Linked DNA regions of Homo sapiens. The protein of the gene in region 2 interacts with the protein of the main gene of each other region in a biochemical or structural test. Each region holds a gene or a part of one and is shown on either strand. Other genes may lie near its edges.

What was found.
Region 1: the proteins of SIAH2 (region 2) and EGLN3 form a complex in vitro, tested with the Homo sapiens proteins (2 studies listed by BioGRID).
Region 3: the proteins of SIAH2 (region 2) and RBBP8 form a complex in vitro, tested with the Homo sapiens proteins (2 studies listed by BioGRID).
Region 4: the proteins of SIAH2 (region 2) and PEG10 form a complex in vitro, tested with the Homo sapiens proteins (one study listed by BioGRID).

What each region holds. Positions count from the first base shown.
Region 1 is NC_000014.9:33,927,058-33,934,086, forward strand, and holds part of EGLN3 (prolyl hydroxylase EGLN3), read right to left. Parts: intron 4,159-7,029; coding exon 4,039-4,158; intron 2,156-4,038; coding exon 2,019-2,155; intron 1-2,018. UniProt on the Homo sapiens protein: Prolyl hydroxylase that mediates hydroxylation of proline residues in target proteins, such as PKM, TELO2, ATF4 and HIF1A. Target proteins are preferentially recognized via a LXXLAP motif.
Region 2 is NC_000003.12:150,753,141-150,760,169, forward strand, and holds part of SIAH2 (E3 ubiquitin-protein ligase SIAH2), read right to left. Parts: intron 1-7,029. UniProt on the Homo sapiens protein: E3 ubiquitin-protein ligase that mediates ubiquitination and subsequent proteasomal degradation of target proteins.
Region 3 is NC_000018.10:22,978,306-22,985,334, reverse strand, and holds part of RBBP8 (DNA endonuclease RBBP8), read right to left. Parts: intron 3,118-7,029; coding exon 2,942-3,117; intron 450-2,941; coding exon 345-449; intron 1-344. UniProt on the Homo sapiens protein: Endonuclease that cooperates with the MRE11-RAD50-NBN (MRN) complex in DNA-end resection, the first step of double-strand break (DSB) repair through the homologous recombination (HR) pathway.
Region 4 is NC_000007.14:94,659,351-94,666,379, reverse strand, and holds part of PEG10 (retrotransposon-derived protein PEG10), read right to left. Parts: intron 3,047-7,029; coding exon 1,846-3,046; coding exon of another isoform or gene 698-1,845; 3' UTR 1-697.

The DNA.
Region 1 (7,029 bases), on a different chromosome or scaffold from region 2:
GAAAGAGATTTAATGGTACTACTAGAAACACAAATGTCCTATAAATCTCACATTAAAAGTTTTAAAGTTTTCTCTATTATTAGAAGTCTACCCTGATTTATTTATTTATTTATTTATTTATTTATTTATTTATTTTTTGAGATGGAGTCTTGCTCTGTTGCCAGGCAGAGGCGTGATCTCGGCTCACTGCAACCTCCACTTCCCAGGTTCAAGCGATTCTCCTGCCTCAGCTTCCCAAGTAGCTGGGACTACAGGTGCACGCTACCACACCCAGCTAATTTTTAAATTTTTAGTAGAGATGGGGTTTCACCATGTTGGCCAGGATGGTCTCGATCTCTTGACCTGCCCACCTCGGCCTCCCAAAGTGCTGGGATTGCAGGTGTGAGCCACCATGCCCGGCCTGTCTACGCTGATTTTAATTTAAAATTAACTTCTCTGGTTTTAATTCTATTTCAATGTAATAAAATGCATAAGGAATTCCAGGTATGTGCCAGAAATTATCTTGGGCATTAGGAATTCAAATGACCCTGTGATCAGATCTTCCTCTGCGATCTCAGGCTCCAAGTAGGGGAGACAGGTGATTTTGCAATAATGCAACAGGTAAACATAGCCTCTACAGAAAGGACTAGAAGGGAGTCATTCTGCTAAAGACTGGGAGACCCAAGTTGGTGGCGAGAACATAGAGAAGAGATGACATTTGAGTGAAGCTTTGAAAAACGACTTATGTAAATCACAGTATGTTTAAAACTCTTGGCTTGCTTTCTTTAGTTTTGGACATTGAGGCAAAATTGCAATTGAATAATAATAATGCCCCAGAGCTTTCTACTGCATCCCCACTAATTTGCTTTATCCCATTCATTGGATAGACTGTAATGGGAGCCATTTCATGCTTGGTTTTTTTTTAAAGTTTCATTTTGTAATGATTGTTAGCTACTTCCGTAGCTAACAATTTCTATAGCACTTGAGTTTTTTTCAAGGGACTTCTCATCAACATTTGCTAATGTTTTCCCTGTAAGGCCAGTCATCATGAGATTGGGGAATAACCAAAGACTTCTGCCACAAACAACAGGGTTTAGTTACATACCCCATAAAACACAAAAGCTGACTTCAGTGGTAGAATTCGTTCCCTGCTCATCTAGAAGACATTCCGATTTGGCAGTTAATATATAACTGGGTTTGGGGCTAAGCTGTGTGACTTCCGGAGGAGGGCACATGTGATCTTAATTTAATTAGGCTTGTTAGGGTTTAATCATCATCCTACCAAAATTCTCTCCTCCTGCCCCTGAATGCTAGTCTCAGTATAAGCTGCACTCCATAGCCCTCCAATGCTGCCCGGCTTATTGCTTTAGACACAGACAAAGGTAAATGAGAGGCAGAATTGAGAATGAAGATTTTTTGTCAAGATTGTCTAGATTGGTCCTAAACAATACTAAGGTGTTCAGTTACTCTGAGAATCTTCATGTGCACATGATAAAGAAAAGATTAATAAAACATCCAACTGTTGGACCATGGATACAGCAAGCCCAAGCCAATTTCAAACCAAGGAAAAGACAAAAAGAGAAAGTCAAAACAAATTACTCTTTCTCTTCTCAAGGCTCTTTCTCTGCTTGCAATTAGCAGCTTGTAAACTCATCCAAAGTAACCAGACAGAATTCCTGATATGTGACAGCCAACATTCTCTAGGCATAGTTCAACATTAGGTTTTTTAAAAAAAGGGAAAGAGAGATAAGAGAAGGGAGGAAAGGAGAGAAGAGAAAAATACTTTTGAGAAATTGGAATCCAATATGCTCATCTAATAGAAAACAACTTGTTAATAGTACTTTCAAACTGAGGTTAGGTTTGATATGCTAAAGAACGCAAAGTTTCCCCTTTAATTTTTGTAGACTCCAAACAAGTTTGCTATCAGCTATGGGGTGTGGTCAATCCCCCACATGCACAGGACACACGTTTAAAGAGTTCTCTGGAACTAGGGTTTGTACACCAAGCTCCGGAAGAGGAATCATGGCTCCGGCTATTACCTGGTTGCGTAAGAGGGCTGCACTTCGTGTGGGTTCCTACGATCTGACCAGAAGAACAGGAGTCTGTCAAAAATGGGCTCCACATCTGCTATGAATGATTTCCCCTCTGGAAATATCCGCAGGATCCCACCATGTAGCTGAAAGACACAAAGAAGGGGGATTATTTCTTACCTCTCATGTAGTTTATCAACAACCATATTTCAGCTCCATTTAGAAACATGCCATCTGCTAACCACCACTCCAAATGCATGGTACCCCAGATTTTTACTTCAACCTCATAGTTTGTACCAATTTGAGATGGAGTTTCACTCTTGTTGCCCAGGCTGGAGTGCAATGGCACGATCTCGTTTCACTGCCACTTCCACCTCCCTGGTTCAAGTGATTCTCTTGCCTCAGCCTCCCGAGTAGCTGGGATTAGAGGCATGCACCACCATGCCCAGTTAATTTTGTATTTTTAGTAGAGACGGGGTTTCCCCATGTTGGTCAGGCTGGTCTCGAACTCCCGACCTCAGGTGATCCGCCCACTAGGGCCTCCTGAAGTGCTGGGATTATAGGCATGAGCCACCACGCCCAGCCACTTCGTACCAAATTTTATATCAAACTTAGCTAGAGATATCTCCTTATTCACCTTAAACCAAAAAAAGCACTCCCACCCCCCACAGTCATAAAGCCCATGGACGTAAAATAGAGTACTATTAGATTGAATCATACCGATTTGCCAATATTTGAGTGTTTTTGACTTAAAAAAAAATGCCCAGTGATCTCACATGGTTCCATCTAACCATTAACAACTTTCTAAGAAAATCATCACATGTAACTTCCCCTTCAATTAGAATTTACAGCTCTTCTGAACTCCCTTAGCTCCTATCTGACCTCATTAGTTGGAAGTTACATGCTCTTTTTACTGAACTCTCAGACCACCTAATCTGCACCTTTTATGACATACACCACTCTCTTCCTTGAATTATTTTTTTTACATGTCAACCTATTTCATCCTACTAGAATAACCATATTCAGAGTAAAGTTCAGGCCTCACACATCAATGTTTCTTCATAATACAACGCCTGACACTAGCAGGAACTCAAATATTTGTTAAATGATTCCAGACCTTGCAATTTATTATTACCAGTCTGATAACTTTATTCTCTTGTCTCTATCAGCACCTCTCAAGATTTTAAAGGAGACTTAATGGATGTATTCCAGTCATGTTACCAAACAGGGAGAAGAGATAGGCCTTTTCACTGATTCAATGGTTTCCCAAGTTTCGTTTTTCTGACTCTGGATAAATATTATTGCTTTATGACAGCCAGTATTTGCCTAATGAACAGGAAATTGAGATGCAGAAGGTTCAAAAGCCAAATAAGCTTGAAAAGTTATCTGACTTCCCAGACTCCTAAATCATTCTTAACTTTCGGAAAGCATACAGAGTCCAGATGAATGTCTGTAAGCATGGAACCAGGCTTCATATCTCCATCTATCTATAAGTTCTATAATACAAAAATAAGCCACAAAGCCTTTGGCATTCACAAACCATAGTAAGCCATGGCAAGCAGCCATCAATGAGACATACCACCCCGAGGGAGAGGACTGTGTGGGAAATCTCTCTTGGGGATGGTTTTATAGCCTACAGTTCTATTTTTGTGGAACTTTCTCAATGCTGCTGCTGGGAGGGAAAAGTGTATATCCTATTCTGCATTGAGTCAGAACAACTCTGAATTAAACTGAAAAAAATTAATCCTTAATCCTAATATCAAATTACCTTCCCTTCATCAACCACCCTTCCCAGAGGTAGGGTTAATAATCACCCTACCTACCCCACTCCAAATTAACTTCATTGTTTTCTTCTTAACAACTTTAGGACTAATTCCATTGTCGCAGGAGGTTATGAAATGGAAATAGAAATGTTTCATCAGTGGGAGATACGGCAACTATGAACTCAATATAAACTCTCCTCTAAGTTATCTGAATCATTTTCCTGTAGTTTCTAACCCCACACTCTACTCCCATTATTCAAAAGTACCTTGGCATCCCAATTCTTGTTCAGATAGTAGATGCAGGTGATGCAGCGACCATCACCGTTGGGGTTGTCCACGTGGCGAACATAACCTGTTCCATTTCCCGGATAGCAAGCCACCATTGCCTATGGAGAAATCCCAAGAAAGCTGGTTAACAAAGCTGAGACAGACAATCTTCTCCTCCCACTGGTGAGCAGATAAGTAACACAGTCTCCTTGGGTGTTACGTGACATTTACAGGTAGTTGCTGGCTTCTTAATTTCATGTATGGTACATAAATTTGGACTCTTCTGTGCACAATGGCCAGGTCATACTATGGCTCTGCCCAGTGGAAAGTAGTTCAACAATATTCCCACAGTTCTAGAACATTTTACACAGTCTTTCTTAAAGTAACCTATCTGCATGCCCTGTTTGCATAACCTGTTTGTATGCCCTGCCTTTCTTCAATACTCCTTTTTGGAAAAGCAGTTTCTAGTTTCCCATGCTACAAAATCAGAGTCACTAGGTGTGGAGTTTAGGGATTATGACTGTTTAGCAAGTGCTGCTGAATCACTCACACTGTTTCAGAACAATGGCTAAAGGTATTTGCATACACAAAGTGACAGAACTAATCACCAAAGGAGGAAAAGGTCAGGCTTACTCAATAAAATGCTCAGGATAGAAAGAATAGAGGAAGATCAATAGGAAGCCGCACCCTAACTTGTTAACACAGACAACACAGGGAGATTCCTTTCAGGAAAAAAGCCATGCATGTATCTTAATATGTGTCTTCTTCCTGATAATTATGTAATCAGGTGATAATCTGAAGTTCTCTTTGTCTAAGTGCTACCTGTATCAACCAGGTGGAAGAATAAAGTAGAAAACCGTACCAAAAATCCTACTGAAAATTACCATTAGAGTAAACAGACCTCTAATTGTTCCAAGGGAAAAATTATAACACAGAGTGGGGAGGGGGAAGAAAGCAAAGTATAGAAAGCCAGTTCTTTTCTTCACAGGATACCGCCATGTTTGAAAAATATTTTTTATAGGGATGCAGTAGGTGCAAGGAAAATATTAGAACCAGCAACACAAGATGAGGACAGGGATTTTTTTTCCTGTTCTACTCACTGATGTATTCTTAGCACCTAGGACAGTGCCTGACATACAGAAGGTGTCCATCTAAAATGTGATAAATAAATCAATGAACTAGCGAATGGCTCTTTCTCTAAAGAGTAAGTTCACATTTTACCTAGATCAATAGCTATTTCTGTCATTTTAAAAGACCTATCTTCAAACATACATGTAAAGATCCAGGCCATATATTTCCTGATAAATGGCAGCGTTGCTTCATTGGTAAAATGACCGTTTGAGTAGAGCCCCAAGCTAATGGGCTAGTGGTTCAATGAATCAGCTTCAACGTGGCTGCCGAGTCACTCTCAATAGTAGCATGAAAACACGGAACTAGGCAAAACACACCTTGCATGCCAGATCAATAATAAGGCTGAATAGTAACTGGACTTTACAACAATTTTAAAGCTTAAATCACCATCTCTCTCAAACTTCATATCCTCATGCAGCAAACAATCCCCATATCCTGCCTTTGAACATCAAAATGTCAATGTGATGTCATCCTTAGAGCTCAAGTTAGGCTGTTAGCTTGAACATCTTTCAGAAGGTGAAACTGTGAGGCGACGTCAGCAATGAAGATTTAACAAATGATGGTACCACTAAGCAAAGCATGGCTTGAGGAAGGGTGATTGGTAGCAAACAGAATTGATGGGCCTAGCAAGAGAAGAAGAGACAAATAAAGTCACCTATAATGACTAAAGAATTACCCACCCCTGGAAGCAGCTATTAGGATTATAAGAGCCACCACAGAGCCAATAATGAAAGTCGCTTAAGCCACAAACAATTACAGGCTGGATTCCCTATTATCTCAGGCTCCCCCCACTGAGTGTGTCTGAAAAGAAAAAGTATGACATCAATGCTATAATCTTATATGCTTAAACAGCTCTTCTCTAAGGAAAAGGTCAGTGGTCTGGATGCCTGCCATAGTTCACTCTGCAACTAACTGTGATCCCAGGCTGTCTCTTTCCTATAAAGAGGGGATTGGGTTACGCAGCTGTCAAAGGCCCAAGAAGATCTAAGACTTGATCTAAGCATCAACCCTTGAAAAAGCAACATAGTTCTTCAGGTCATTAAGGAGTGTTTCTCTGCCTCAGAACTCAGCTCAGATTAAAATATTGAAAAAAAAAAAAAAGATGGATACAAACTCACAAAAGTAAATCCTCTACCAAATGCCGCATCTATAAAACACACAGAGACAAAGCCAATTCCAGAGGACTTACTATTAGGACAAAACCCCTACATGTCAGCAAAGTATCCGACTGCTTAAGAGGGAGGCAAAGAGATAATTTTTCTGGCCAGAGTGAACATTCACCCTCTCTCCTGGTTCCAGAAACCACATGCATCAAGTTGGAAACAATGGAAGGAAATCATTTCGAGCATCAGTGGGCCAGTTGAGGCTACATTTGGCCAATTTTATCAGTGTGTTTTCTGGATGAGTGCCATAGGAGATGGGTCTTTGCTTGGGCACATTCCCAACTATTTGCTCGTCTTTGACAGGGTCTAAAACCATGAGGCTAAGGATGCACCGAGAAGCAAGCCTGACTTCAATAACTAGCCATTCACTTCTGTGCCAATTTGTGCACGGGGCAGTAACAAACTCCGGAAACAGATCAGTCCAACTGAGTTGCTATCTAAACCTCATCAAGCCGGGGAAGGGATTTAGTGTTTAACAGAAGAGAAGTCTTCAATGCTTTATTGTTAAAAGAACGGGCCAGAGTAATTTAATGATCATATAACAAACATGCCAAGCAATAAACTGACACATATCAAGAGGATGCCTACTTTAGTACAGGCTTTTTATTTTCTAAAACTTCCTGACTAGATTAATATTTGAAGTTTACGCAAGTTTAACACAGTAGTGTCATCTACAGCAGCACATACAGTATAGTC
Region 2 (7,029 bases):
GGCTCCTAGTACTTCAGACGGGCTCTGCCCTATTGGCACATCTGTCTCCACCAGTAGACTTAGGAGAGTTTCAGAAAGACGAGAGGGGTGAGCAGAGGCAAGAACTGGCTAGGCAGATGGGTTGTGGGAAGGAGAGGGCCTGGAACTGCAGGAGATTCCAAGGCAAGAGTGAGTATGATGTAAAGTTGGTGGGGTCAGCAGCGGCCAACTCTGGCCTGACACTGCACCAGGGAGAAAAAGCAGGCTGTGGCATTAAGAAAACCAAAAGGTAACACCCAATGTCGGTGCTGCTGGGAAGAAATGGACATTCAACTGTAAACCATTCTAAGGGAGAAAACAATTTGGTTCTACTATCAAAAAGCTTCAATTTCTCAGGCCGGGTGTGGCGGCTCATGCCTGTAATCCTGCCACTTCAGGAAGCTGAAGCCGAATCACTTGAGCTCAGGTGTTCAAGACCAGCCTGGGCAACATGGTGAAACCCTGTTCCTACAAAAAATACAAACATTAGCCAAGCCTGATGGTGTGTGCCTGTAATCCCAGCCACTCAAGAGGCTAAGGTGGGAGGATCCCCTGAGCCCAGGAGGTTGAGGCTGCAGTGAGCTGTGATTATGCCACTGCACTCCAGCTTGGATGACAGAACTAGACCCTGTCTCGAAACAAAAAACAAAAAAAAAACACTGAGATTTCTGCATATACCCTTGGGCTCTACCATCCAACTTCAAGGAATTTAACTTTAGGAAATAACTATATTTTTGTGTACAAAGATTTGGTTATAGCAGTGCTTTAAAAAAAAAATCTCAGTAAGAAAAGAGAATTTAAATGACCACAAATAGGAGCCTGATTAAATAACTCTGGTACTGTTATAGAACTGCAATATGTGGCCATTAAATATGATCCTAAAGAATATTTATCACTGTAGAAAAGCAGTCACGATGTGTTAGATAAAGAATGTGTTAGATAAAGAAGCAGATTATGAAACAGTGTAGACAATAGGATTCCTCACCTGTATTGTTCTATTCTCAAATTGCTACAAAGAAATACTTGAGACTGAGTAAGTTATAAAGAAAAGAGGTTTAATTGGCTCACGGTTCTGCAAGCTGTACAGGAAGCATAGTGGCTTCTGCTTCTAGGGAGGCCTCAGAAAGCTTCCAATCATGGTGGAAGGCAAAGGGGGAGTGAGGCATCTCACATGGCAAGAGCAGGAGCAAGGGTGGGAGAGGTGCTTCACACTTCTTAAATAACCAGATCTCATAAGACTCACTATCATGAGAACAGCACCAAGAGGATAGTGCTAAGCCATTCATGAGAAATCCACCCCCAAGATCCAACCACCTGCCCCAGGCCCCACCTCCAACATTGGGGATTACAATTGAACATGAGACTTGATGGGGACATAGACCCAAACCATATCACCATCTCACTTGTTTTGTTTTTGTTTTTGTTTTTAAAGAAAAACTCCACCGATGTAGAAATAAGTTTGCAAGGATGTATGCAAAATGGTATAGTGGTTATCTTTAGGTGAGGGAGATTATAGGAGATTTTAATTTTATACTATTTTCTATATGTTCTACATTTAAAAATAATCATAACTTTAGAAAACATAATATGTAAAAATACACAAAATATAATACATATAATTTAAAATGCTGCTTAATCTAACCAGTTTTCCCTCTCAAAAAATTTAAAGAAATGAAAAAAAATCCTCATCACTGAAAAACCAATACAAGGGCCAACTTACACAGCTCTATGAAAATGCTATATGATTAAGAGTAGGGAAGGGAAGCTCATTGGGAAAATCTATGGGAAAAAATAGGAATGATTCCTTTTTTTCAAGTTTATGCATGAACCTGACCTCAGACATCGGCCATTTAGTTTCTGTTAGCTTCTAACTGAGCACATTTATTTAGTGCCTGGGCTGTGTCAGGCACTTTGCATGAATTATTAGTGTGTTTGGTCCTCAAGGCAACCTTGAGGCTTGGAGAGGTCACCAGCCAGTCACAGTGGGGCTGGAGTTGGGATTTGGACCAGGCCAGATGAGGGGCTGCCCTCAAAACTGCCAGAGTTAGAGGGATCCTGGGGGTAAAAGGGACCCAAAGATACTATCTTTGCTGATTCAAAATTTTAAAGCAGTGCATAGGCCGGCGCATTAGCAAAAGAATATTTTTCTTTTTCTTTTCTTCCCTTTTTTTTTTTTTTTTTTTTTTTTTTGAGACAGGGTCTCACTCTGTCACCCAGGCTGGAGGGTATTGGCAAGATCTCAGCTCACTGCAGCCTGGACCTCCTGGGCTCAAGCGATCCTCCCACCTCAGCCCTCTGAGTAGCTGGGAGTATAGACACGAGCCACCATGCCCAGCTAATTTTTGTATTTATTTATTTATTTTTTTTATTTTTTGAGACGGAGTTTCACTCTTGTTGCCCAGGCTGGAGTGCAATGGTGCGATCTCAGCTCACCACAACCTCCGCCTCCTGGGTTCAAGTGATTCTCCTGCCTCTCAGCCTCCCAAGTAGCTGGGATTACAGGCATGCGCCACCACGCCTGGCTAATTTTTTATTTTTAGTAGAGACAGGGTTACTCCATGTTGGTCAGGCTGGTCTCGAACTCCCAATCTCAGGTGATCTGCCCGCCTCGGCCTCCCAAGTGTTGGGATTACAGGTGTGAGCCACTGTGCCTGGCACAAATTTTGTATTTTTAGTAGAGACGGGGTTTCACCATGGTGGTCAGGCTGGTCTTGAACTCCTGACCTCATGATCTGCCCTCCTCAGCCTCCCAAAATGCTGGGATTACAGGCATGAGCCACCACACCTGACCAGGAATATTTTTCATCCATCTGTATATCACCTGTGGGCAAAAACTGAGAACAGGAAAACCCTTTTATTCCATAGATGCTACACAGTCTAAAAATCATTACATAAAATCTTTACCAAACTGGAAATGAGGAAAACAACAGTTTTGCAATCTAGGGCAAAGCTGATGAAATTCTGTAGAGCATTTCAGTATCCTTCATCAGCCTTAAAAGGATACCCCGAATCTTAAAATAAAGATACATTTGATCAGGAAGACTTTCTTATTTTCCTTTTCAGGATGTCCAGCGTGGAACCACATTCAAATACCCTGTGTATGATCATGTCCTGAAAAACTCGCCAGCAATACACAGTGGCTCCAAATGCTGGCACTGGTACACAGTTTAGCAAATGTGTATCTGCTACGTGCCCCTTTCAAGGAGTGAGGACCTTATGGGTTTGAATAAGAACGGCCATGTCTCACAAATTTTGTCAGAAGCAAAATCTGATGCTTAAGACATTTTACAGTGAAGCCTCACTATATTCATGTATACAGTACTTTTTAATGGGGCTTCAAAAAACAGCTCTACCACAGAACGGGAGAGTCTATCCCAATCTTGGGCTGGTATTTTATAGGCCAGACCTGCTGTAACTTTTGGTAAGCCTCTGTTCTGGTTATACTAAGGCTCAACTTTCACTGATAACTATTTACTCTAGTTCCAGGTCATGGTGACCTGTGAAAAATCTTTGGCCAGTTATGTGTGGAATTACCATTAAGCTTAAGTACTGCCATATAGTATTCTAATGCTTCTGCTTTATACAAAAAGTAAACTACAACGAAAGGTGTATTATCAATTTTGTTCTTTAAAATCTTGAGCCCCGGAGTTAATGTATGTGGACTCTGGTCCTTGCCAGTTCACTCTGTGCTTTTATGGGCCAACCTTGCCCATGTCAGGCAGTAGTGAGGACTTCAGGGACAACTTCCAAAGTAAATAGTTTTGTGTTAGGAGAATTCTGGGGGTTAGGAAGAAATTTTTGAAAGTATTTTTGGCTAATCGGCTTGTGCTTCCTGCTTCCAGGTGATCCCCCATTGCAACCTTCCAACCACCCCAATACCCCCCATATTCCATTCCATATGGTGAAGCAAAAGCCCTCAACAGCACTTCTAATCTGATTTCCAAGCACCCACTAACTAGGCGTCATCTCCGTTCTTTCTAATGGATGAACAAACAGGGTCAGGGAAGTATGTGACTGGACCAAAGTCACACAAAGCCAGGACGAGAACCCAGGTCTTCTGTTTCCTGGCTCACGTTCTTTTCACTGGGACCGCTTACTATATTTTAAAATTTTAGGGTAAGAAAGAACCTTGGGATAATCATTTAGTCCAATCCCTTCTCTTAAAGACCCTCAGGTGCAAAAAAGAAACTGACCTGTATAGAGTCAAACATCTAGTCACAAGGCCATCATCTGAGGGTTCCTGATGGCCAGAAAATAATATTCTCTTGGCAAAATGAAGATGAAAAGAAAACAAGCTACAAAATCACCAACAGTTAGGGCCTAACAGAGTTCCAAAGTTCATGTATGGCAAGAGTTAAATGAGAACTTCCAGGCTCAAGGAATGCTTCTACAAGAGAATCAGATCAGAGGCTGCATGCTGGCAGCTGGAATTTGGCCTGGAGACGTGGTGGTTCGCTTTGTCTGCAAGTGGTGGTTATACATGTGAAGTCAGCCAATGCTAGAAAAAAAATCGAGATATTTAACATAAAAAAAAAATCCAGGCTGGGCACGGTGGCTCACACTTGTAATCCCAGCACTTTGGGGGGCCGAGATAGGAGGATTGCTTGAGCTCAGGAGTATCAAGACCAGCCTGGGCAACATAGTGAGATGACATCTCTTAAAGGAAAAAAAAAAGATCCAGATTTCTGGCTTTTCTTGAAAAAAATCTAAAGGTCTGATATGCCTGTACCCACATCCCCAACCCCACCAATCAGCCAGAGGTGAGTAAAGGCTGCCTCTTGGGAGGTGGCACCTGTTCTCTGGCTCTCCACCATCTCCACTGCTCCTCCAGGTCTCCCTGACCCTGAGGCCATGAGTGCATCAAATACTTCTCTCCTCTCCTCTCCTCTCATTACATGGCCCTCCTCCCATTTAGAAAGTTTGTCTCCACTGAACTAGATGAGGCCAAGGGATTTTAAACTTTCAACTGTTTTGTCTAACCTTACTTGGTTTTATGTTATTTTTTATTTTTTTAAGGAACACAGACATTGTCACAATTCAACCACAGAGAAGACTTGTCCAGCTGAGGCTTTCAAATTCAATAATTATTTGGAGATATGCTACTAGAAACTTTCAGAGAGGACAAAGAAAAGGTATCATTACAGTGTAAGAAGGCTGGAGTGGATTAGCATTGCTCACAGTTGTAGAGAGAAATACTTGGCTGATATCAAAATACATCGTTGGATGGTAAAGTAGACTATGTTGTTGATATGAATGTGTCAACCTTCACTTCTCCCCCTAAACCCACACACTGAAGGGGTGAGTTTAAGTCTGGGCACAGGATGTCAAAAGTTCTCAGGCATGGAACAAGCCACAGAATGGATTAAAAAATACCCCAAGCGGAAGAAAGCCATACACTATTAGACATTCCATTTTTTTTTTTTTTTTTTTGACACAGAGTCTTGCTCTGTCACCCAGGCTGGAGTGCAGTGGCACAATCTCAGCTCACTGCAACCTCCACCTCCTGGGTTCAAGCGATTCTCCTGCCGCAGCCTCCTGAGTAGCTGGGATTACAGGTGCCTGCCACCACACCTGGCTATTTTTTTTTTTTTTTTTTTTAATGAGACTGAGTTTCACTCTTGTTGCCCAGGCTGGAATGCAATGACGTGATCTTGGCTCACTGCAACCTCTGCCTCCCGGGTTCAAGCAATTCTCCTGCCTCAGTCTCCTGAGTAGCTGATATTACAGGCATGTGCCACCATGCCCAGCTAACTTTTTTGTATTTTTAGTAGAAACGGGGTTTCTCCATGTTGGTCAGGCTGGTCTCAAACTCCTGACCTCAGGTGATCCACCCACCTCAGCCTCCCAAAGTGCTGGGATTACAGACGTGAGCCACTGCGCCTGGCCCTAATTTTTGTATTTTTAGTAGAGACAGGGTTTCACTATGTTGTCCAGGCTGGTCTCGAACTCCTGACCTCAGGTGATCTGCTCACCTCTGCCTCCCAAAGTGCTGGGATTACAGGCATGAGTCACCACACCCAAAGATCTGAGCTAATAATGCATCCGGTTCCCCATATCAAAGGTGCTGGCAACACTCTAGCCTTTAATTAATTACCCTAAACCTAAGTGGGATAGTTATTTGGCAATACATCCATTTTTTTGCCAACTGAAGCAGTCCAGAGCTGTGATGATACCCCACAAAATACTAGGTTTGTAGGTTTCCCCCACCCTCCCATCTTCCTACCCTACATGCCCTACAAAATTCCTGCCAATGAATTTCATAGTGAGTATGTATGTTGTCATTTTGGGATGGTCCCATAAGAGGCCCATCTGGTGAACTCATCCAACCAGACGGTTTTGTTACTGGTGTCAACCTTGAGTTATGATTCAGAATCTTGAGTATACACTCAGATTCGAAATCCCTACGTAGTAAGGTGTAGGACAAAACATCTGTGCCTTTGAGATGCAGGTGCTTGGACTGGTCCTCTTACTAGCTGTGTGATTTGACAAGTCACTTCACATTTAACCACTCTGTAGGCATGAGTTTCCTCATCTGAAAAAAAAAAAAGGCAAACTAGTAAAAGCTGACCCCTGCAAAGTAACTGGCAGATAGAGGGCATCCAATAACATTCCAGATAGCCTCCCTTCTTTTCATAGAATGCTAGAAGCTACAGGTCCTTAGAAGTCAAGCAGATTCATCTCTCATTTGTATAGATGAGGAAATCAAGGCCCTGGGAGGTGGTCTTTCAGGCAAACAGTGGCAGCTCTTGAGATGTGGGCTCTGGTACTTTATTCAACGTTGGTTTTTTTCACATGAGCCAGCCCATGAGAGATTCTGAGAGCAGGTGGGGACAGTAAAAAGGCAGTCCCATAATTTCTAGGAGCCTCAAACTGTAGGCCAAAGGGCTAGGTAAACAGATCTGCCTTGTTTTAAGTTTGATACAGGCCTTACGGCTCTCTGTTGTTTCTCATCCTCTACAACTAACACATCTTGGTTGGTCGCTGGGCCTATGTATACATTCAAGTTTGGTT
Region 3 (7,029 bases), on a different chromosome or scaffold from region 2:
TATTTCTCCCTCAACTAGATCATAAGCTCCATGAGGACAAGGGCTTTGTTTTATTCAGTGCCTGGTATACAACAGATGCTTCAATATTTGTTGAACAAATAAGTAAATCACAGTAAAGCCTTCTTTACTTAAAATTATTAGTAATTTATATTAATATGATTAGGGATATTTATATGAATAGGATAACATTACTTTCCAATATGAAAAAGATAGTAAACTAGTAATATAAACAAAATTATATGGAAAATACCTTTAAAATATTGTCTAAGTTAGACTGTGGGTCACTGTTACCCACCAATAACCACAATTTTAAACTTGTAAAGTAATCTCAGTATCTTGCTTACTGGCCATTGGAGATTGACTTTGGTCATAAGTGTCAGCTACTAGAATTTCATTTTCATTAGGATTATGTTGTGGATGAGTTGAAGACTTGGAAACTTTTCTCATTTCTAAGGGGAGAAAAAAATAAGAGATTACACAATAAACAATGATGATGAAAAGCATTATCAAATTATTTTTATTTATTCATATTTAAAATTTTTATGTATTATCTGTATTTAAATCCAATATAAGTACTGTTTTATTGACATAATTATCATATTCTAAGAAGTAAGCTCCTTTAATTTCACTAAGAAACAAAGCTGTTTAAGTTAAGACATTGGGAGAGAGGGGACTAGAACAGACAGCTTCTTCTAACCCAAATTGCCTAGAGTAGTAACATTTTAGTGTTACTTCTCTTTTTATATTTGTTACAAATCAGCAGGTTAATTTAAAAAGGTATACTGGGCTGGGCACAGTGGCTCATGACTGTAATCTGAGCACCTTGGGAGGCTGAGGCAGGAGGATCTCTTGAGCCTAAAAGTTCCAGGCTGTAGTAAGCTACAGATCACACCACAGTACTCCACCCTGGATGACAGAGTGAGACCCTATCTCAAATAATCAATCAATAAACAAATGATCAATCAATCTAATGTATACTATATCATTTATCTCCATGATCTTTGTTTTAGAGTTTCTATTTTCGGGAAGGAAACTCTGAAGCATGCTTTATCAGAAATCACTCCAATATTTAAAGATTTAGTTCAAAGAAAACCAAAATAAGGACAAGGTAAAGTGAAATGGTTTTACTATTTATAACTTGAGAGTAATATTAAAAAGCATTATAAACCTTAAAATAAGCAAGCAAGGGAAGTTAGAGAACAGGACTAATTAGTCATTAAAGCATTTAAAATTATTATTATTATTATTATTTTTGAGATGGAGTCTTGCTCTGTTGCCCAGGCTGGAGTGCAGTGGCATGATCTCAGCTCACTGCAACCTCCACCTCCAGGGTTCAAGCAAGTCTCCTGCTTCAGCCTCTCGAGTAGCTGGGACTGCACGCGTGTGCCACCACGCCCAGCTAATTTTTTATATTTTTAGTACATACAGGGTTTCACCATGTTAGCCAGGATGGTCTCGATCTCCTGACCTCGTGATCCACCCACCTTGGCCTCCCAAAGTGCTGGGATTACAGGTGTGAGCCACCGTGCCCGGCCTTAAAATTATTTTAAAATCATTTGTATGGCTCAAGGTTATCGTACATCTTAAAACCAAATTTCAGATTCCAAGTAAAAAATGATCAGAACAAGGTTAAAGCAAGTGAATTAAATTTCTAAATAGTTACATGCTGCTTTCATACAAAGAAGAAATAAACCAGAAGCATTTATATTGGTTACAAAAGACTTTCCTAATATGGAATTGTTTTCTAGATATTCTTATTTGTGAATTTAAACCTGATGTAAATTATGCAGTGATTATCTTTAATGATTCATGTCCTGTCTGATAGCAAACTAAAAGGTCAACGGATATTCATTTTAGATCTATGATTTTACATTTTAACTTAGCTCCTATTTAAGTGTAGGATTTTTAACAGTTCTTTTGTTTTCCACTAGATGGTGATACAAACGCTTATAAAGTGGGGGAAAACTGTCAATGTTCCAACATCTAAGAATAAGATCTGCTTATTTGTTTAAAGGCATATTTACTGTCAACAATTTATTTGTATTATACAAATATAGTAGTACATATATATCCCCCGTCCCCCATGCTTTCCTTGTTGCAAATAGTTTAGGTTAAAAATTAAAGTCTTTACTGTTTGCTTTAGATTAATACTAAAAGTAATACTTGTATCATGGCACATAACAAATTTTGGGACTATGTGAAAAGACAGTTTTAAAGCATTTAGCAGAAATGATAAACTAGGCTGGAATTAGAAACATGTCACTGAAAAGCCACAAAGTGTACATATTATAACACCATTTCTTGATTACCACTAACTCCTACAAATTACAACAAATAAAAATAGCCAGTTACAGACAGCTCCAATGGCAGGAGTACCCATGTGGCAAGACCTGGAGAGTAGGAAAGTTCAGAGCTAAGAAGATCTGTATTTGAATTTTGACTCATCTACATAATAGCTGACCTTGAGTGAGTTAACCTTTCTAAACATATCTTTCCTCATCTATAAAACAAAAGAGCTGATAGTTATCTCACAAGCCTGTTACGAGAATTAAAACATAGCAATAATACATGCAAATCACTCAGCATAATACCTGGTACACAGGAGGTAGAAATTAACATTAAGTTCCTTTCCTTTTTCCTTCTATCCCACTTGGATATATACACATAGGAATATTTTTAAAATAAAAAGAAAAAAGAAACTATTTACTACATTTATAAAATATGGTATATTTACATGTCATATAGATGACACGTATCTATACATAACACGGGCAGAAAACGCCTTCTCAGTCACTTTACAAATAGAAGTTAAACTCATAGTTGTACCATGGGATACCAGAATAGTGACTATCTTCTTATCACTAGATTGAATAACATAAAAACTAGTAGATGAACACTGGTTTACAAAACCAGAGAACTAAAATACAACTCCAACTCTTACCATTTGCACACACAGAGTGCTCCAATTTAGTATGTGTTTGTTCTATGTATCGGACATGGGGGTTCTCCTTTCTTCGTAGCCGGTTAACGCCAGAAAATGAGAAGGCTGTTATCGGTGAATCTGGAATAACGTCTTCCTCACATTCAAGCTCAGCTGCTTGATGCTGTTGATCATTCCTAGAGAAGAATGACAATGGAAAGAAAATCAATTCAATGAGTATTAAAACATTTACTACATGGCATGGAGTTACAGTAGAACACAAACATGAAGCTCTAAGGGATGTAATCCCTTGCATCTAATGTTCCAAACCTAAGTAGATAAGTACACGAATGATTACAGTACCCAGTGGGAAATACTATGTGAGAAGTGAAGTAGAAAGTATAGTCAATAGCACTTCAGGTGAAATTAAAAGTATTTCAAATTGCAGACAAGATCAGGAGAGAACCCACAGTCTGAGGAAAGGCATGCAGTACTGTGTACTTATGTTGGAGAAGGGAAAGCTGGAATTACATGAACGAGAGCCATGAGCTCAATGTGCACATAATGTAGAAAGCAAGAGGAAAGAAATTAAGGTTTTAGAGCTTGGATATAATGTGACAATCTAACAGTATTGTGCAAGATTGGGACAGAAGGACAGGAGGCAAGGAAATCAATTAGTGGCTATAATAGTCCAGGCAAGCCGCTCTGTCTGCGGTCTGAACTAGAATATTTTAAGTACATATGGAAAGGAAAGAACGTTAAACATCATGGTAGTAGAATTAGCATGCTTGACAAATACAGGATGAGAACACTAACAATGATAACAACCAATTTTTGTTATGTGTTTACACTGCCCGGCACTATTTAAATTATGAGTTTAATTATCACAACTCTGTGAGGTATTACTACTTTCATTTTACAAATGAGGAAATGAAGATACAGAAGTCATTTACTAAAATAGTAACAGAGTCAGGATTTAAATCTCAGCAGTCAGACCCTAACAATAACACATTGTTAACCAAATGTGTTATCCATAGTCTACAAGAAGGCTTCAAAATTTGAGTTTCTGTTACTGCTTTTATCTAGGCCCCCTTATAGTCTACTCTCAACAACAGTCACAAGAGTCCTATTAAGAGATAAATTGGGGCCGGGCGCGGTGGCTCACACGTGTAATCCCAGCACTTTGGGAGGCTGAGACGGGCAGATCACAAGGTCAGGAGATCGAGACCATCCTGGCTAACACGGTGAAACCCTGTCTCTACTAAAAATACAAAAAATTAGCTGGGTGTGGTGGCAGGTGCCTGTAGTCCCAGCTCCCGGGAGACTGAGGCAGGAGAATGGCGTGAACCCAGAGTCGGAGCTTGCAGTGAGCTGAGATCGTGCCACTGCACTCCAGCCTGGGCAACAGAGCGAGACTCCGTCTCAAAAAAAAAAAAAAAAAAAAAAAAAGACATAAGTGGCTCACACCTACAATTCCAGCACTTTGGGAGGCCCAGGCAAAACCCTATTGCTACGTACAAATATATTAAAAAATTTGCCAGGCGTGGTGGCACACACCTGTAGTCTCAGCTACTTGGGAGGGTGAGGTGGGAGGGTTGCCTGAGCCCAGGAAGTCGAGGCTGCAGTGAGCTATGATCATGCCACTCCACTCCAGCCTCGGCAACACAGTGAGACCCTGTCTCCAAAAAAAAAAAAAAAAACCCCAAAAAGACTTAAGTCATATGGATGAAATCTCATGAAAACCCTGTCACATCTGCTCATTTCACTGAGAACACAAGCCAAAGTCCTTTGATCCATGAAGATCCTACATGACCTGATGGTGCCCCTCCCATTTTTCCTCTCTGACCTTTTTTCCTATTATACTCTACTCCTGCCACACTCTCTTCCTTGAGGTTCCCCAAACACACCAAGCATACTCCCACCTTAGGTTCTTTGCACCAATTGTTCCACCTGCTTGGAATGCTCATCCCCAGATACCTACATACCTAATTATCTCTCTAATCTCCTTCAAGTCTGCTGGAATTTTACCGTTTAAAATTGCAACCTCCCTTCACACACCCTAGTACTCCTGTTCCCTGTTATTCTGCTCTATAAACTTTATCCACAGCATTTACTGCTTTTTAACATAGTATGCAATTTACTCATTTTTATTTATTTAGATTTTTTTTTGAGTCTGAGTCTTGCTCTTTTGCCCAGGCTGGAGTGCAGTGGTCCAATCTCGGCTCACTACAACCTCTGCCTCCTGGGTTGTAGTGATTCTAGTGCCTCAGCCTCCTGAGTAGGTGGGATTACAAGCGTGCAACACCATGCCTGGCTAATTTTTGTATTTTTAGTAGAGACAGGGTTTCACCACGTTGGCCAGGCTGGTCCCAAACTCCTGACCTCAAGTGATCCACCCGTCTCGGCCTCCCAAAGTGCTGAGATTATAGGCGTGAACCACGGCGCCCAGCTGCAATTTATTTATTGTATCTATTGCTCACCTGTTAGAATATAAGTTCTAAGAGGATGGGATCTTTGGTTAACCGATGAATCACAAGAGCCTACCACAGTAGACATACAGTAGGTATGGCGTAAACATTTGTTGAGTGAATAGGAGACATTCCCAGATTCCACTAGAGAATAAATTTGTGTGGATCTAGGCATATGTTCTTGCCCAACTCAATTCAGGATCAACTGTAACTGAAAGATTGGGTTTGAATTGAATTGTGAATGTTGAGTAAAAATAAAGTTAATTGACTTTCCCATGTCAAACCATTACTGACCTTATTTGCCAACCAATTGTTACCAGTCTGTCAGACATTTAGGCTTTACATGACCAAATCAGTCTGTCCTATTAGACTCGTATCAACTTGCAATACTATTTCCAAATAAAAGCTTATATAGTGAGAACTGTATGAACTATGACCAACAGAGATTTTTAAGAAACATTAATTGGAAGACAAAGACTAATTTTTCCCAAAAAAGATTTACACTTTAATTTCCTGAATGATACCAATATTATTTGTAGGCTTTAATCCTACATTTTATACCAAGGAACAATCTTTAGAGCTAATGTCTAATTATTTAAAATTTTTTAAATTTTAAATAAAATAAACATAAACATAAAATAAAATAAACATAAAATTATTTAAAATTTTATTTTATGTTTTTGAGACGGAGTCTCCTTCTGTTGCCCAGGCTGGAGTGCAGTGGTGCGATCTCAGCGCACTGCAACCTCTGCCAGGTTCAAGTGATTCTTGTGTCTCAGCCTCCCGAGTAGCTGGGACTACAGCTGCGCGTGCAACCATACCTGGCTAGTTTTTGTATTTTTAATGGAGACAGGGTTTTACCATGTTGCCCAGGCTGTCTCAAACTCCTCACCTCAAGTGATCTGCCCACCTTGGCCTCCCAAAGTGCTGAGACTACAGGCATGAGCCACTGTGCCCAGCCAAATTTTATTTTTAATTGACAAATAATAATTGTATCTACTTACTGGGTTCAACAAAATGTTTTGATACATGTTTACAGTGTAGAATGATTAAATCAAGCTAATTAACATCTATCACTTCACACACTTATCTTTTTTTTGTAGTAAAAACATTTAAAATCTACTTGGCAGTTCTGAAATATACAATCATTATTAAGTCACCATTCTGTGCAATAGATCTGATATCTAATTTTTTAATCTCTTCCTGTAATTTTCTTATTCTGGAAAAACAGTAAGTTAAAGTCATATGAGAAAGGCTTATAAATTAATGGAGTGTGAAATCTATCTGACCTAGCTTTAACTAATCACGTCACAGCCTGCTTGCCTATTAGTCATAAAAATTCCACCTGAAACATGAATGAGTCACGAGAAGCAATTGATTTCCTGGCAGAGTCAATGTGGAAGAAGCTGGGATCACAAAAGGAAAAAACAAAAAAACAAACAAAACTAGCTCTAACTAGAGGTGCCCAAACTAAGTAAATGAGTGCTGGCTTTGTCTTCCTTTGTCATAAAAGGAAAAAACAAAACTCCATATGTTAACCAAGTTCATCCTTTAAAACACTAGTCTCACTGATTTTCTGAGAGAAAGAGTTCACGTCACAGCTTTTGGTTAAATTAATTATGCACACTTGTCCTCCTTTCA
Region 4 (7,029 bases), on a different chromosome or scaffold from region 2:
TTTCTTTTCAGGCCTGAGATGTTTCATGTCACAAGGGTTTTTCCTGCTCCTGGGAGAACCAGTCGAGTTGCTGCTCCTTGAGAATTAACAGAACCATGGAAATGGAGTTTGAAGACGGTGAAGTTTCTAAGGGTGCAGCGAGAGGATCACGGAAGCCTTTCCACACTGCACCGATAATTTTGGCTTCCTTAATAAGGCCTCAGTCCTCCAGTGATTTAAAAAGAGGGTACCGAAACCGCAAGAAAAGTCATGTCCTCCTCCTCCTCGTCTCCCCCTCCATAAAGAAATCAGCATTTCCTGCGTTTGTATCAGCTTCTCTGTAAATGTTAAACAGCAAATTTGGCAGCCTATAATTTAGATGGTGATGGAGGTTTTGGCAGGTAAAACCCAGACTTCCAGGACTGGCTGGAAAGTAAACTTATTAATTATTTTAGTTAGATTGGCAGTCAAGGTGGAAAAATGAGAGATCATTTATTGGCAAATACTCTGTTGCTCTCAGAAAATGTTGAAGGTCTTTTGGTGCTTTAGGATGTGTGCCAGTCCAGAGTGGCCCTAACCTTCCATAGCCGTTTCAGAGAGGATGTGCCTCAGGTGGCCTGAAGATACAGTAGCCTAAAATTTAGCACACAGTCACTGATTGAGAAGCTGAACAGGAATAAATTTTGAGGGCAGAGATCCTGAAGGACATGACAGGTATTTACAGGGTACTGTAAGATGGAGGCGGCGGCGGTGGTGGTGGTGGAGGCGGCGGCTGTGGCGGCGGGTACTGTGGTACCGGAGGCTGGCGGTACCAGTGTGGATTCCAAGTGATCATCACAGGTACATATAGTGATCTTCCTTGTCCGTCTCGTCCCACTGGGTACCAGGCGAATCCTACTGGGTAGGTCGGGTACGCGGCATATGTGGGGTATGTTTGGTATCCAGGTATTTGAGGTACGAATTCAGTGTACGTTGCCAGGTGTGCTTGGTCTTCTAAATTTGGAATAGATAGGCGAGGATACTGATTCTGGATAGTAAAATTGTTTGGAGCTCGGCAATCATAAGAAACTTGCAGTTTCCACCCCCTCTTCACCTGGAGAACTTGGGCTCCATTAGGTGCAATCGTTGGAGTAATTAGCCCATCTTTTACATTTCTTGCCACAAAATCTCGAAGAGCTGCCATTTCAGGTTCGGACAGTGAATACACATGTCCACTGGGAATACTGTGTGCTCCAGGTATCATTTCTATGTGAGGGTCAACCAGGCGGTGATCTGGGTAGACGTGCTCATCTACTGGAGTGTACACATTCTGGACATAGTAATACCTCACTGGTTGGTAAACTCTGTATCCATCTACTGGATAATAGAGTGGCGGTTGTGGTGCTGGTGGTGGGAGCGATGGTGGTATTGGAGAATACATCCGGCAGTGGTAGCGGCAGTATTCAGAATCAAAGACGATAGATCGAGTGCTCCATGTGATATTGGGATCATGTGTGCTCAGCCAGCGAACCCCTAGGACGACAGGGAAGAATGGAGACTGAGTCACATCAAATGACAGCACCTCTCGGTGATCTCCCAGGTCAACTATCAGGTCGTGAGTTTCGTGGACAACTGGGCCCGATGCTATGGGGCGCCCATCAATTGCTTCCACAAGTATTGGCCAGTCCTTGATTCTTAGAGGAATTCCATTTTGAGCAACATATTCGTGATCAATGAAGTTGCCAGAAGCACCAGAATCGATCATGGCTCGGACGAACAGGGTGTGTCTGCCCGGAAGATGAATCTGGAGCATCACTTGCAAGTGTGGAGATGAGGCATCATCTTGTGGGGACCTTATTATTTCTGGCCCGGTCGCTGAAGGTCCCTCTACAGCGGGGCCGGGGAGTTTCCCGCCGGCGAAGACTTTGAGGCCTTGGCAGGACAATTGTCAGCGTAGTGACCTCCTGTTCCACAGTAGAGGCACAGGTTCAGCTTTCTGCGTCTTTCTTTTTCTTCCTGCGTCAGGCGCATGCGGGCACCTCCCACCGGCTCGGTTGGATCTACCTGGTGGTGGCTTGCAATGTGAGGCAACACCAGCGCCCGGGGTGGCGAGCGTGGCTTGCGAGCTGCAGCAGCCCTGGCCAGCCTTCTCTCAATGTGAATGCACTGCCCAATCAGAGCAGACAGCGACTTGGCGACCTCGAGGTGGGAGAGCTCCTCCTGAATGTGGTCGCTGAGGCCCTCGTGGTACTGGTCAATCAGCGCAGGCTCGTTCCAATCCAGGTCCTGGGCAATCATCTGGAAAGCATTGGAGTAGTCGATGACAGACCCCATGCCTTGGCGCAGGCGTCTGATCTTGCGTTTGGCAACCTCTCGCCTCTGAGGGTCTTCAAAGACATGCTTCATTTCCATCATGAAAGCTGGGTAGTTGTGCATCAGGTAGTGGGAGCGCTCCAGCTTTGCTGAGGCCCAACGGGCAGCACGGCCGGTCATCATGCTTGTCACGAAGCAGACACGGACACGATCAACTGAGAAATCCCTGGTGCTCTTTTCCATGAAGATCTGGCACTGGGCCATGAAAGGAGCCAGCATGTCTGGGTTGCCATCGAACTTCTCTGGGAGGTCTTCTGGGCACTCTTCCTCTATTGGAGGGGGTGGGGCAGCAGCTGCTGCAGCACCGCGGAGCTCGATGTCATCATCCTCATCCTCAGGGGTGGGTTCCACTTGCTCTCGAAGGGTGGTGTTCTCCTCTGTGAGCTTCTGCACCTGGCTCTGCAGGTTGTTGTTCTCCTCCGACTGCTTCATGACCTTCTCTCTTAAGTTGTTGATCTCTTCAGAGAGCTCGTCCCTTCTTCGTTCGGTCATGTTGGGGACACACGCACTCTTATGGCCGGTGTGCTTGGAGTTGTTGTTGTTGTTGTTGTTGGGGGGAGGGGGAGGAGGAGGAGGTGGGCAGTCGGGACCCAGGGTGACGGTTGGGGTGGGAGGAGACCTCCCAGCTGTAGCTTCACTTCTGTGGGGATGGAGGCCTGGATCCTGGCCCCCTCTTCCACTCCTTCTTTTTTTTGTTTTCAAAACCCGCTTATTTCTGTAAATAAAGATAAATGTATGTATAAATCCAACTTATACATTCAAAGCAGCAAAAGCAGACACAAAGGATTTGGTATTTAAATTATCCCTTGCTCTACGTGCTTACATTAATAATTAGTGAACAAAGAAAATAAACTCTCAAGAGAAAGTTAGTAATCAGCACCATATATAACAAAAAGCAAAGTACTTTTTGATGTTCAAATGACCTTGTCTTCCTCAAAGGCCACCTGTTCATTATGATTCAACAATACATTATCAACAGCATGCTTACCTTTATAAACTATAAAAGAATGTTGAAACCCTCTAAACAAGTAGTTTTGTATTCAAACACAGCAAGAAACTTCAAGGCAAACATGGATACAAAATCAATTATGCAAATTAAAGCCAAAATAATAACTTTTGTTATTAAAGAAGCCAGGCCAAAAATAGTTAATACTGCAACTAATAGAATCTCATTAAAGCAAGAAGGGAGTATTAAAATCACAATGCATGTATTCATCAGCCCTGTGGGCAGGAGGGTACTCTGGCCAACTGTCACAACCCTATTCCACTGCCACCGAGAAGGTAACTGGTTATCAAATCAAACAACCACCACCACAAAAACCACAGGACTGCCTAAATTACTTTTCTGACCATAATTTAAATCCCCAAAGAAAATTCTCTATGGGACAGAAATGGCACTAAGCAGCAATATGTGTATGTCAGTTTCCTTTGTCATTATGCAGTCATTCAAGAAATAATAATTGATGCCTCCTAGGAAAAGCTATAAAATGGGACATTCAAAGAAGCCCAATAATAGTATACCTCAAACTAATTATGAGGACTTAATTAAATAGTGCAGGTAAATTATGTAGTGAGTATTCAACAATGGTTAGCTGATATGAACAAAGTTATTAATTAGAAAATAGAAAGGTGACTATCTGTGTAAAAAGAGTGGGATTAAAAGAGGGAGGGGCTGCAACTATAGCAACATGGGCATGCATTTCCCACCTAAAGACATTTACTTTTTTAAAAATACTGTGTTGGTCAAACAAATTCAAGGCCTTATTTGTCTTGCAGTTTACCAGTTTGTAATCCATAGTTTTTAATGAAGATTTGTCAGCATAGCCCCAAATGAAGGTTTGTAATGTTAAGGTGGGACAGGGCTGCACTCCTAGGGGGTGAGTGGATGTGTGTGGGGAGGTGGGGGTAGGGTGTGTGTTTAAGCATTCTAATTATGAGTGTAATGACAATCACACACATAAAAATCCTGACACAGTGTCTGCCTGTGTACTTCCTGAAAATACAGTTAAATGCATTTAGAATGATTTAATTATTTTAAATTTTATTAATAATCTCAAGTCCCATATTTGGAAAATTTAAATATATAAAAAGTTTAAAACATAATATGTAAAAGTTTAAAAAAGTTTAAAAAACTTTGATTTAAAAAGTTTAAAACTTTTAAAGAAAGTTTATAAAACTTTTAAATAAACAAAAGTTTAAATACATAAGTTGGTCCTCTCTGGATACTCACTATGTGATTTACCTGCAAAAATGGACGCCAAATAAATTACATAGAATAAGGCCAAAAAGATACACAGTTGGTAATTAGAGAAGTTAGGTGAAAAATAGTTACTATTTTCAACCAATAGAGTACAAGAAAAAAAAAAAGTGGTAATTAAACATGATGCCCAGCCCCTGGCTGTAAAGAAATGCTCCTTCCTCTCCAACTCCTAAACTCTTTAGGTACCTCCCATGCCCCAATGTCACCACCCACAGATACTATCCCTGTGTCCTTTGCAGTTGGTGTAGCCTCTCCAAGGAGTGGCTATACAGCAAGCAGGGTCTTTAAGAGACAGGGAGTAGTGTGACATTTTAACAGTTTTAACCCCACTACTTAATTACTTTAGTAACTTAGGCTATAAAAACAACAAATAATTGACATTCAAGATAAAATATTCAAGTTTAGAAAAAATTAGAAAACACAATAAACACATCATAACCCGTGACATTCAGTATCATTTCCAACTCCTTAAAGACAATTGTATTGCTGACCCTGACAATATAACATCACAACATAATGCAATTTTTCCTTATTAAATTAGGAGTTTTCATGTCCCATTAATGAACAACTAATAACCATAAGTAAGGTGACTAAGGTACCACTTTTGTCATCTAGACATTAATATCTTCAAAACCTTGAGACAAGACTTCCTAAAGAGCATTCACAGCATGGCCTGGTGCAGCCTGACCACTTGTCAATCACGGCCACTAAGTGGGGCTTTATTGAAGCCCAGGTCTGATGGTTTTATTATCTGCAAAAAACAGTGATGGGACAGAAATAACAATACATTAGGAAATCAGCAAATAATTACTACATGGTTTAGGGAAATAAAAGATCAATAAGAGTTAAAAATTCAAATACCTTTGGTATATAAGGAAGGTAGTTGAAAAGTGAAAAGAGACCAGAGTTAAGATGGGAGGGGCTGCAACAATGGAACTTGGGGGTGCATGCCCTCCCCCTTACCACCCTCCCCACCCCTGCCCCCCTGCCACCAGACATTTCATTCTTTTTTATTTTTTAATTTAGTTCCTGGTCAAACAAATTCAAGGCCTACTTTAGCCTGCAAGGTCACTAGCTTAAGACTTCTGACCTTTGCCAATAACAAGCCTGAGGCCTTCATATGAGGGTTGGCAAGTTTAGGGTGGGACGTTAAAAGAGACAACTGCCCAGGGAACAGTAGTTTATCCATTAAAAGTAATAGGGTAATGGGCAGGCAGGTTAACAGTGCGTATAAAAATGTTTAAACAGCGACTGAGGCAGCACAAGTTAACCTGGGACAAGAAGCATGTTTACTTGATTTGAATTATAGAACTATGTATGGCTCCTTAAACTCCCCCTTAGTAGGGGCTGCATTGGAGGGGAGGGGTCAAGAGGTCTCATTCCTGAAAACTGAAAGGACAAACTGCATAAAGCCAAGTTGCCTAGGACAGATGCCATCTTTACATGATAATAATTTCAGTTTTAGTCTTTTTAGGAAATAAATACATTTGGTTAATTATTGACTCTTCACAATAGCTTGGAATAATTTCTATTCCACAAACACACCAAAGAGCAATAGTAGCCAAAAACCATAAATGAACATCCTGTTAGGAAATGACATCTCATTAAGCAACTCTTAGTTGCTTCATATTTTCAAATGTCCAATTTTTTAGTACTATCTTGTACTATTTATGAAATGCAAATTCTCTTAATATGCATGTTATTACTGTTGTTTTGAACCTCTTCAATATGCAAATATACAATATCCAAAGAGAAGGGAAAATTACTTAAAGCTGTAATTATGATAAGCACAAATTTTCCATAGATTGTGTACTTGTGGTGGGGAGGGGGTATGTGACAGAGATTTTTGGGAGCCAAAGCCCCCAATTCCTCCCCTACCAAAGTCCTGGCTCATGATTTGTAATATATGGAACCAGGTTTTAAAATTTCTTCATTCAGCTGGAAACACAATTCTTACATGGTACCTCTTACTAGCAATCAGTTATAAATTTGTTTTATACAGTTGTTTAATTTTGCAAGCTGAAACAACCTATATTTTGTAATGTGGCCACTTTATATTACATTACACAAACTTTAATACAATATGTACCATTAATAATACACTTGCCCCAAATTTAAATTAGCTTTTTATGAAAAAAGCTAATTATTTGGAATAACTAGCTTTTTATGAAAAAAGCTAATTATTTGGAATAACTAGCTTTTTATGAAAAAAGCTAATTATTTGGAATAACTAGCTTTTTATGAAAAAAGCTAATTATTTGGAATAACTAGCTTTTTATGAAAAAAGCTAATTATTTGGAATAACTAGCTTTTTATGAAAAAAGCTAATTATTTGGAATAACTAGCTTTTCATGAAAAAAGCTAATATTTGGAATAACTAGCTTTTTATGAAAAAAGCTAATTATTTGGAATAATTAAAATTAATTTAGTTGCTTTGT